Homo sapiens: one gene and its partners. The protein of the gene in region 1 interacts with the protein of each later gene in a pairwise test. Each region holds a gene or a part of one and is shown on either strand. Other genes may lie near its edges.

Region 1 (3,654 bases):
TGTCCTGACCCAGGAGCCGTCTCAACCCATGCCTTTTGGGGATGTCAAGTTCCAGGCTTGCTGGGGCTGTCAGCCATTTATGTAAGCAGAGAGTTACGTGTGCAGAGGATAATGTCTGCTTATCTCGTGACAGTCATTTGAAACCTGATGCTAATGGAACAGGGGATGCCTGACCTTTCTGGATACTGTGTAATCATGCCCTTCACAAGGGAGAGGCTCATTTATTTTGAATTTAACAACGGGAGTGAAAAAAACAGGAGCAACCAAAGCTTACTTCCTGACACAGGGGCACCCTGAAGGTCACTGTGAAACAAAAGAAGGTTGCTCCAAAGTCACCTTCCATGATAAGCTTCTGGAAAGGTAGAAATTGTGCCTGTCCCTGCCCAGGATTTAGCATCCTGTTGCTCCAACTTATCATAGCAACGATACCTATTAAAATGCCAATACTTGTTTATCTTTTCCTTCCTTTCCTAGAATCCGGATTTTTTTTCCTGTTGTTTTGAAAGATTAGCAATCACTATGTAATTTATATTTTATGTTGTGTGTGTGTGTGTGTGTGTGTGTGTATATATATATATATATATATATATAATTTATGAAATATTTAACATGCTGGGCATCCAATCCATATAGCTGGAGTTATGACAGTTATAATGCATATAAATAAACTCACTGGAAGACCCACTGTCCTCAGTGAGACTTTCTTTTCTCCCTACAATAGTATACAGATGGTCCCTGATTTACCATGGTTAGACTTAGGATTTTTGAGTTTTCGATGGTGCAAAAGCAATATGTATTCAATTCACTATTTGATTTTTGGTGGGGTTACATCCAGATAAACCCATCATAAATTGAAAACGCACTTTCAACTTATAGTATCTTCATCTTACAATGAATTTATCGGGACGGGACCCTATTCCAAGTTGAGGAGCCTCTGCTTTAATAGGCAATATTGCAAGAGACACTATGGTGCTGTGGTCTCTCCCCTGGAGGTTAAGCTAAACCTAATCTGGCCAAAGCTGAGGGTTCTCTATTTTATACCCAAAGGCGATCCGGAAGGGTGGGCGGTGCCTTCCCAGGTCCTGGTTGTGCACCTTCTCCTGGCTTTCAAAGTATCCACAGGCTCTCTATTTTATACCCAAAGGTATTCCAGAATTTTCCTCACGAATATATATCCATTTTAAGCCAGCCAGTTAATAGGTATTTCTTCAGGGTATTCTAGGTTCCAGATAGATTCTAAATAAGATCAGGATTCTAGAGAAAAGTCTCCCATATATTTAGACTTCTGGTAAACCCAAAGCAGCTGCACCTTTGGTGTTGGTGTTGTACCTAGTAAGACGGATAACAGGCAAGTTCGTCCTGGTTACACTCCTTACAAAGGCCTGGTGGCAAATTAATGAGCCCTTTCTGGGTGGAGGAAGCCCTGTGCCCAGCATGTGGCTCAGTTAGCCAAGTGTAAGCTGTGTTCCAGCTCTCGCTCGCTTCCTGGGCCAACTACCCTTGTGCAGTGCACACCCTGGACTGCCGTGTCTGATTCTTCTCACAAAGGCAGCTGTTCTTGCTGTGTCCCCAGCAGGGTGTGGTTGGGGAGGGGAACTGGGCAAATACCACATACCATGAGGAAGGAATATCCGATCCACAAACTCCGCCACCCAGCTGGGCAGTGTGGGATGGAGACATCCTGACTGTGGACCGCGATGGCGATGGCCGGGGCCTCACACACAGAACAGCGGCTGATGTAGGGCTTGATCTCGTCCTCGGCCACGGGCATCATGGGCAGCGGCGCAGTGGTAGAGAGCCAGTAGGACTTGTCGTTCCGGCTGGCATAGTAGCAGACATCACCAGGGTTGCAGTACAGGAAGGGCATGGTGCTGAACCGCGCCAGGCAGGAGCCCGCCAGCCCTGTGGAAGGAGGGGTCATGAGATCACAGTGCAGTGTGGCTAGAAGACGCACCTGCCAGCCCCAGCCAGGCCCAGGAGGCTGTGTGTCACGGACTCGCCCCAGGGCACCTGGTGGAGTTTAGCCACCTACTGGAGGGCCAGGCTAAGGCTTCCCAATTTCTTTCTTTTTCTCTTTTTGATCAGACTCCACTGGCATTTTGGAACAGCTCTGTTCTTCTACAAGTTCTCACACATACTGGGCCAAGTTGGATCACCAGGGAGTGGCGTCTTCATGGAATAGCATTTTGGGTGAGCCTTACCTTAGTGGGGTCTTAACAGCACTGGCCCCAAGAAAACTCTGATGGCCTCCAAGGGGTCGCTCTTTGACCCCAAGGAGCCACCCCAGAAGGAGTCCTGGCCCTTCTCCCTTCCATGTAGCTTTATTGCTTCTGGAGACTAAGATAGCCTTTATCTCCTGGCCACAACGAATGCTGCAGCTAAGCAGGTTTCCCTCTTCACATGGATTGCTGAAAAGCTCAGACCCAGAAGTGCAGCCACCTTTAGCAAACATGCCCGGTGCTAGGCTGCCTCCTTGGCCCTGTTCCTAGATCTATTTTTGGCCCTTATCCTTGGCGGCCTTTGCCCCGTTGTTCTTTAGAAACTCATTGTGGAGGCGGGGCGCACAGGCAGGAATGTGAAGGCACCATGAGCCAGCAACATGCTTCCCGGGGGCAGAACGCCTGATGTAACCTGCACCGAGGAGGCAGAACACAGCCAGTATCCCAGAGACCCTTCCCGTCACCCCCTCAAAGAGGACCTCAGACTAAGCTACCTCCACTTGTAATTTGTGTGTATTGCATTTTCTGTATTCGAAGTCGCGTTAATGCCTTTCAAAGGCTTCCTTAAATAAGAGCATGCACACGTGTCCATGGGTCCATTTTCCTCGGGGGGCTGTATGGGAGAGTCTTACATGAACCCCAGCCCCTCATGGCCCCTGCCTGACTCCAAGTCTACAGAACTTGGGTCAAAAACAAGAAGGAGGTGAAGTAATTGGTGGTCTCCACTGGAGAGGGGTCGGGGGTCAGACGGGTCACATGGGAGCCTGCGGAAGTCAATACCAGGTTAAAAGGCAGGTCCCTGTGTTAAGGTCCTGAGGTTTAAGGGCTTTGTAAGGCTTCTGCTTCAAAGGCCGTTTTAATCTTTCTGCACTCGAGGAATGTAGATGGACCCTTCCGTCAGGGGAACTTACCAGCCGTGGAGGGTTTGGGAGTCTCGCTGTGGCCCTTTGATCTTGGCCACTTCCGGGCCAGCCCTGAGCAGGCAACGGGGGCCGGGTGGGAGGTACCTACCCAGGTCCTGGTTGTGCGCCTTCTCCTGGCCCTCGAAGTACAGCAGGCTGTATCCACTCCAGAGTTTGTTCATGCCCACTGGGCACATGGGCTCCTGGTCCGTCTGGCTGTGCTTCACCAGGAGGTAGCCGATGCTGACGCTGCGGCCTGGCATACCCGGCAGGCCCGGGCTCCCTGGACGGCCTGGTGCACCTGCAGCCCGAGAAAGAGAGAGAGTGGACGGCCTGGTGCACCTGCAGCCCGAGAAAGAGAGAGAGTGGACGGCCTGGTGCACCTACAGCCTGAGAGAGAGAGAGAGAGTGGACGGCCTGGTGCACCTGCAGCCCGAGAGAGAGAGAGAGAGAGAGAGTGGACGGCCTGGTGTACCTGCAGCCCGAGAGAGAGAGTGAGTGGACGGCCTGGTGCACCTGCAGCCTGAGAGAGA
Region 2 (3,654 bases), on another chromosome or scaffold:
ATTTCAGGAACTGGTTCACAAACTGGTACAGACTTTGGTTCAAAGGTACGATCAAAGGTTGATTCAGAAGTCAGCTCATCAGAGGCCAGTTCACCAGTGGCCAGATCATCAGAGGCCAGTTCACTAGAGGATAGATCACCAGAGGCCAGATCATCAGAGGCTGGATCAGTGGAAGCTGGTGCTCCAGAAGCCAGATCAACAGAAGTTATTTCACTAGAGGCTATATCATCAGCGGCACAATCACCAGAAATGGGTTCAACAGGGACCGGTTCACCTGGGATGGGATCACTAGAGGTGGGATCACCAGAGGAGAGATCATCAGCAGTGGCATCACCAGAGGTGGCATCACCAGGGGACACATCACCAGAAGGGGCATCACCAGAGGTTGCATCACCAGAGGCAGCATCACTAGAGGAGGGCTCGCTAGAGGTGGGATCACCAGAGGTGGAATCACCAGAGGCCAGTACTCCGGAGGCTGGATCTCCGGCATCCAGATCACCAGGGGCTGGATCACCAGAAACTGGTTCAGCAGGCAGTTTAGAGACTGGTTCTGGAGTTATATTATGGGGAGACAAAGGTTCACAATTTAAATCATCATCCTGCTTGTTTTTTACATTAACACTTAGGATACAGGGTGTTTCCTTCCATTCTGCTTTACTTCCTTCAGGATCAAAACAAATCTCTTCAATGCCATTCACCTCTTCCTTGTCTTTAATGTAATCCATGTTTTCCAAAGGTGAGGTTGGGTCCAAATCTCCATTTTCATGGTTGCCATTTAACAGCTTGACATCAGTTTTCAACAGTTCTTCTTTGACCTTGTACACTGCTTCAAGTTGCTGACGATCACTCACTCTCATCGTTTTTCGAGCCTTAAAGACTTTTTTCTGAGGTTCTTCTAAACTGTCCATTCTGAATCTTTAAGAAAAAAGAGAAAGAGAGTTTAATAACTGAAACAGAAGCCACCTAATTGTAGACTTAATACAAATTGATCTTAGAAGAGATGCAAGCAGCACATTTCATGTAATGTTTAAGACATAGAAAACCTACTGCTTGTTGTATACTAATTATCATATTTACTGCATCTGTGTAATACAAAATCAAAAATGGCCATAGTCTACTAGAAAATCAACTAGAAAGTATTAGGGGGAAAAGGGACAAGTTTTTTTTTCCAATATGGAATTCACAGAGTATGGAGATGTTTAAGCAAAAAAAAGGTAGATAAAGTAAAAAAAAAAAAAAAAAAAAAAAAGTACCTGAAGAAAATGAGAAAGAAAAATAAAAGTGTAAGAACAACAGTAGGGAAATAACAGGTATAGAGATAAAGGAAAAAGGAGGAAGAATTAAGAAACATGTAAGGAAAGATTACATTTGCAACCAAGCATACTTAGATTGGCAGAACTATAAACATATTAACAAAAGATTACCATCAAGAAAGAAAATTCACAACAATGGGAGAAAATATTTGCAAATCATATGCCTGATAAGACTTTTATCTCGAATCTAGAATTTCATATCTAGAATACAGAATATATATTTATATAGAATACAGACTTTTATATCTAGAATATCTAAGAACTGCTATAATTCAATAATAAATCACCCAATTTAAAAATGGTCAAAGGACTTGAACAGACATTTCCAGAAAGAGACCCCTAAGCCAAAAGTCCATAAGCAATAAACATCATGAGACATCAGGGAAACGCAAGTCAAAACCACAATGAAATAACACTGCACACACGACAGGACGGCTACAATCAACGAGAATAATGAGTGTTGGCAAGGATGTGAAAAAACTGGAACTTTCATACAATGATAGTGGGATTGCAAATAGGTGCAGCTGCTTTGGAAAACAGGCAGTTCCACAATATGTGAAGTACAGAGTTGTCATATGACCCAGTGATTCCATTCCATTCATTTCCCAAGAGAAATGAAAACATATGTCCACACAAAAACTTGTACACAAATGCTCTATAGAGGCACTACTCATAATGGCCCAAAACTGGAAACAACCTAAATGTTCCATAACTGATGAATGGATAAATAAAATGTGCCATACCCCTACAACAGAATATCATTCAACCACAAAGGGGAATGAAGTACTGAACATGCTACTACATGCATAAACCTTAAAAATATGCTGAGTGAGAGAAGCCAGTCACAAAAGGCCACATACTGAATGATTCAATTTATATGAAATGTCCAGAGTAGGCAAATCTAGAGACAGAAAGTAAATCAGTGACTACCTAGGGTTGGAAGATTCTGGAGAAAATGAGGAGTAGCTGCTAAAGGGTACAGGATTTCTTTACAGGGTTATGAAAATGTTCTAACATTGATTATGGTGATGATTATACAGCTCTGTGAATATACTAAAAATAACTGAATTGTACTTTAAGTGGGTGAATAGTAGATATGTGGTTTTATCTCAGTAATGCCACTACAAAAAAATTTCAAAATAAATACAAAGGTTGTGTGTGTGTGTGTGTGTGTGTGTGTGTGTGTGTGTGTGTGTGTATTCTCTTTTTTTGGTAAGTTGTGCTACAGTTTTATCAATTCTATTCACTTATTAAAGTATGAACCTTTACTTGGCTGATATTTCTTGGTTTTATATCTGCTTTCTTGTTTTAATTATTTACTCTAATATTTATTATCTCTTTTCACTTACTTTTTCTTGGAAAGAGCTTAACATGTCATCCTTTTCCTTGAGATTCAAGCTTAAGTGTTATTTTCAATCTTTCTTCTTTTGTAATGTGTGCATATAAAGCTATAAATTTCCCTCTAAGAGCTGCTTTAGTTGCATCTCACATTTTAATGTGTCATTTACATTATTCTGTTAAAATATTTTCTAATTTCCATCATGATTTCTTCTTTCATCTATGACTTATTTAGAAGTAGGTTTCTTAAAAAGGTAATGAATTCTGACCAAGTGAAGCTCGCTTAGAAAAATACAAGGCTGATTTCACATTCAAAAATCAAGCAGTGTTGACCATGAACAAGCCATGATGCATTCTGACTTTATTTCATGCCCAGCAGAGTGTACAATTACGAGTTTTGCCTAAACTGAATGTCTGGTACCAGGATGTTACTGACTGAATTGTGCAGCATCCCACACCCCACATCCCCAGAAAGATATTAGTCTTAAGCCCCAGTACCTCAGAATGTGACCTTATTCGGATAGGGCCTTTACAGTGGTAATCAAGGTAATATAAGGGTACTAAAGTGAGCCCTAATCCAATACAATTGGTGTCCTTATAAAAAGGGGAAAATCTGGACACAGACAGACATGCACACTGGGAGAATGCCATGTGACAATTGAAGTTATGGTACCACAAGCCAAGCAACTACCAGAAGCTAGGAGAGAGGCCTGGAACAGATCCTTCCCTCAGCACCCTCAGAGGGAGAATGGCAATGACAACACCGTGATTTCAAATGTGTTGCCTCCAGAACTCTGAGACGATAAACTTCTGTTAAGCAAAAAAGAAAACCACAAAACAAATCAAGCTATTTAATTCACCACATAAACAGAACAGAGGGACAAAATCAACAAAGGATTACCTCAACAAATACAGAATATTCATTTGACAAAATTCAAGACTGATGCATAATTACAACTTGCCAGAAACTAAGAATACAAGGAAACTTACTCAAATCTGATAA
Region 3 (3,654 bases), on another chromosome or scaffold:
TATTTATGGAAATATAAACATTTATTGCAGATTATCTCAAATATAAACTAAGTTCCCTCAATGGTGATTTAAAAACTCAAAATATCATGATACTGTTTTTTTCTGGACAGCTGGTACCTACCAGGTAGTGGAACCTGTGCTGGACCACCTCCATAAGACTGTGAAGGTGGCTGTGGATACCCAGAAAAGCCTGCTCCACCTGGTGGGACTCCAAATCCTTGGCCTGGAGGAACTAGAGAAAAGAACATGTCAATAAACTATAGTACAGTTCTCATGATTGCAGAAAAAACTTTAGAAAAATATCTATTGTTAACAGTGGAAAAATATGCTATTAATGCTATAATAGCAGTCCCTGTTTATCTAGATTCAAAACTTCAAATTCTCCAGTAAAAAATAAGTTTTTAAATTTTTACCTTATATATTTATTTATTTTTTGAGACAGTCTCACTCTGTTGCCTAGGCTGGAGTTTAGTGGCACAATCTTGGCTCACTGCAAACTCTACCTACCACGTTCAAGTGATTTTCCTGCCTCAGCCTCCCAGGTAGGTGGGATTACAGGCATGCACCACCACACCCAGCTAATTTTCATATTTTTAGTAGAGACAGGGTTTCACCATGTTGGCCAAGCTGGTCTCGAACTCCTTGCTTCAAGTGATCCACCCACCTCAACCTCCCAAAGTGTCGGGATTACAGGTGTGAGACACCACACCCAGCCAAAATATTACTTTATTACTCTTCCCTACTAACTTAAAATACAAAAGGGCTAAGGTTTTTTTGTTGTTTTTTGGGGTCTTTTTTACCTTTGAATAAAGCTGACCTAAAGGTCACAGTCTTGCTAATTGAAATGTCTTAATCAGGTCTTAAGACTACAAACAAGCAAAGTGTTACATATTGGTCCTTTATTGCCATGAAATTTATTCCAAGTCCCTTCACAGTGGAATTTTTGAAACTGCTCCCAGCTTTCATGTCCCCAGAGAATCTTCATCCCTCCATCTTGCCAGCTAGGTCCTTACTACCTAAGGTTACCTAAGAGCGACTTGACCTTATACAAAACAAGCAGGAATGAAGAGGATAAAGGGAGAAGGAAAAAGTGCTACAGCAATCCCAATCATTACTAATTCCGCAACCCGTAACTCACCTCCGGGATAGGATGGAGCTCCCCCTGGCTGTGGGGCACCAGGATAGCCTCCAGGGGCTGGATAACCTCCAGGCGCAGGGTAGCCTCCAGCTCCTGGGTAGCCACTACTTGGCACTTGTGGGTAGGCACCTCCTCCCATTGGAGGAAAGCCACTAGGATAAGGATACTGACCAGAAGGGGGAAAAGATGACTCCTGACCTGCAGGCTGAAAAATCAGAATAATTTTTAAACAAATACGATCATAGAGAAATATGACCCATCTAAAAATAAGGAACAAACAGAGGTTATTATTAAGGTCTACCTCATTCTTTTACTTTTTAAAAGTCCCATTAGAAATCCTGGTATCTTATACTAGTTTATCAGTATACCAGTTTGTAAGGACACTTGTTTGTCAGAATTCAGTTAAATTTAATTCTACTTGAGTCAGGCAAGAGGGGTCTGCTTCTCTATTTGGGAGTCAGAACAGGATTCTTTACAAACCTCAAGGTTTTAAGAAAAAAAAAAAACTCATCAGTTCCTTCATTTTCCCAGCATCTACAAATATGAGAAAGATCCTCCTCTATATCCTAAACAGAGGAATTTGAGGCTTTCTTGCAACACATCTGGATCTGTTACATAATATTTAAAAATAAAAAAGGTAACCTGTATATCACATCACACACCGGATGTGACATTTTGGACTTCATGGTTCAGAGCAGCAATATGCAGAGTGGCAGAGATTGTTGCATGTTCACTGAACTCTTTCTCCCCAGGCCACAAAGCTATACAGACTACACTTCCCAGACCCCCTTGCAGTTAGGTCGAACCACATGAATGAATATCAGTAAATGAACATAGACAAAAGTGAGATACACCACTTTCTAAACCTGTCCCCTAAAAACCTCTGGCAAATCCTCCATGCTCTCTCTCTTCCTTCATCTGCCACCCATAAGCAGAGGATCCAGTGGAGGACTCCAAAGTGCTAAAGGATGGTAGGATCAGAATAAGGAAGGAGCCTGGAAACCCAAAACACTGCATGAAACAAAGCCTCGTCCCACCCACCCCCTATCCTCCACTGACGTCCAGGAAACTGAAGAAAGAAATACATTTGTTTTTTCATCGTGTTAAGTCACTGAGATTTGGGAGTTGTCTGTTTTAGCAATTAGCCTACACTGACTGAAATAGTTACTACAGTCCTGTTTAATACATAGGGACTTGGGAACATATCCATAATTCTCATCTCTCCTATGATAAATTCACGAGAGCTATATAATCACTTTGCATAAGGATACATATTATCATAAACTTGTATAGACCCCTCTTCCTATTCTCCCAGGGTTAGATAGCAGCCCCACAGTTATGAGTATAAAACCAAAATGTGGGCTGGGCTAAGTGGCTCATGCCTGTAATCCCAGCGCTTTGGGAGGCCGAGGTGGGCGGATCACGAGGTCAGGAGATTGAGGCCATCCTGGCCAACATTGTGAAACCCCATCTCTACTAAAAATACAAAACCTAGCTGGGCGTGGTGGCACGTACCTGTAATCCCAGCTACTCAGGAGGCTGAGGCAGGAGAATCGCTTGAACCCCAGGAGACGGAGGTTGCAGTGAGTCGAGATCACACCACTGCACTCTAGCCTGGTGACAGAGCGAGACTCCATCTCAAAAACAAAAACAAAAACAAAAACAAAAAACTGAAATGTGGCCAGGCGCAATGGCTCATGCCTATAATCCCAGCACTTTGGGAGGCCAAGGAGGGCAGATCATTTGAGGTCAGGAGTTTGAGACAAGCCTGGCCAACATGGTGAAATTCCGTCTCTACTAAAAATACAAAAAATCAGCCAGGCACAGTGGCGGGCACCTGAAATCCTAGCTACTCGGGAGGCTGAGGCAGGAGAATCACTTGAACCCAGGAGGCATAAGTTGCAGTGAGCTGAGATCACACCACTGCACTCCAGCCTGGGCGCACAGCGAGACTCCATCTCAAAAACACAAACAAACAAACAAACAAAAACTGAAACGCACAATTCTTACTTATGGCTCAGCTCTTAGTCCTCAGAGTAGTATAGCTATCAACAAGGTGGAACTTAGTAGCACATTTATAAAACGTACTCCAAGTCTAAGAACTACAAATCCACTGCAATTTATCTCTGGGTCTAGCCAAGCCGTTAATTATTTTAAACATTCTAACACAAAGGTTAAGATGCAGTGATATTATGACTCAAGGGCATTAAAAAAAAGAAAAAGAACCAGTGATTCATGGGATGGATTTTGCTTACATCCATGTTTTACTGGCTCATACAGCAGTTAACATTTTTTAAAACTAACTCCTAAATTTTGAACCTTTGGGCAATTTCACATAGAACCCAAGTTTCTGGCTTTACTTGAAGGGCTGGAGTATCTAGCAACGCTGAGTGTGCCTCCCTCCATGGCTACACAGGGCTGGTGCTAAGCACCTGCCAGCTTTCAATAGACAAAGCAAGACCTCTCTAGTCCCCCACACAATTGCCTTTCCTCACTTCTACGTAGTACCTCTGAGC

Evidence for each region.
Region 2: the proteins of COL4A2 (region 1) and ATF7IP interact in a two-hybrid assay, tested with the Homo sapiens proteins (one large-scale study listed by IntAct).
Region 3: the proteins of COL4A2 (region 1) and ANXA7 interact in a two-hybrid assay, tested with the Homo sapiens proteins (one large-scale study listed by BioGRID and IntAct).

Annotation. Positions count from the first base shown.
Region 1 is NC_000013.11:110,506,183-110,509,836, reverse strand, and holds part of COL4A2 (collagen alpha-2(IV) chain preproprotein), read right to left. Parts: intron 3,423-3,654; coding exon 3,231-3,422; intron 2,191-3,230; exon of another isoform or gene 2,086-2,190; intron 1,903-2,085; coding exon 1,616-1,902; intron 1-1,615. UniProt on the Homo sapiens protein: Type IV collagen is the major structural component of glomerular basement membranes (GBM), forming a 'chicken-wire' meshwork together with laminins, proteoglycans and entactin/nidogen.
Region 2 is NC_000012.12:14,421,170-14,424,823, reverse strand, and holds part of ATF7IP (activating transcription factor 7-interacting protein 1), read right to left. Parts: intron 916-3,654; coding exon of another isoform or gene 909-915; coding exon 1-908. UniProt on the Homo sapiens protein: Recruiter that couples transcriptional factors to general transcription apparatus and thereby modulates transcription regulation and chromatin formation. Can both act as an activator or a repressor depending on the context.
Region 3 is NC_000010.11:73,397,043-73,400,696, forward strand, and holds part of ANXA7 (annexin A7), read right to left. Parts: intron 1,344-3,654; coding exon 1,139-1,343; intron 233-1,138; coding exon 122-232; intron 1-121. UniProt on the Homo sapiens protein: Calcium/phospholipid-binding protein which promotes membrane fusion and is involved in exocytosis.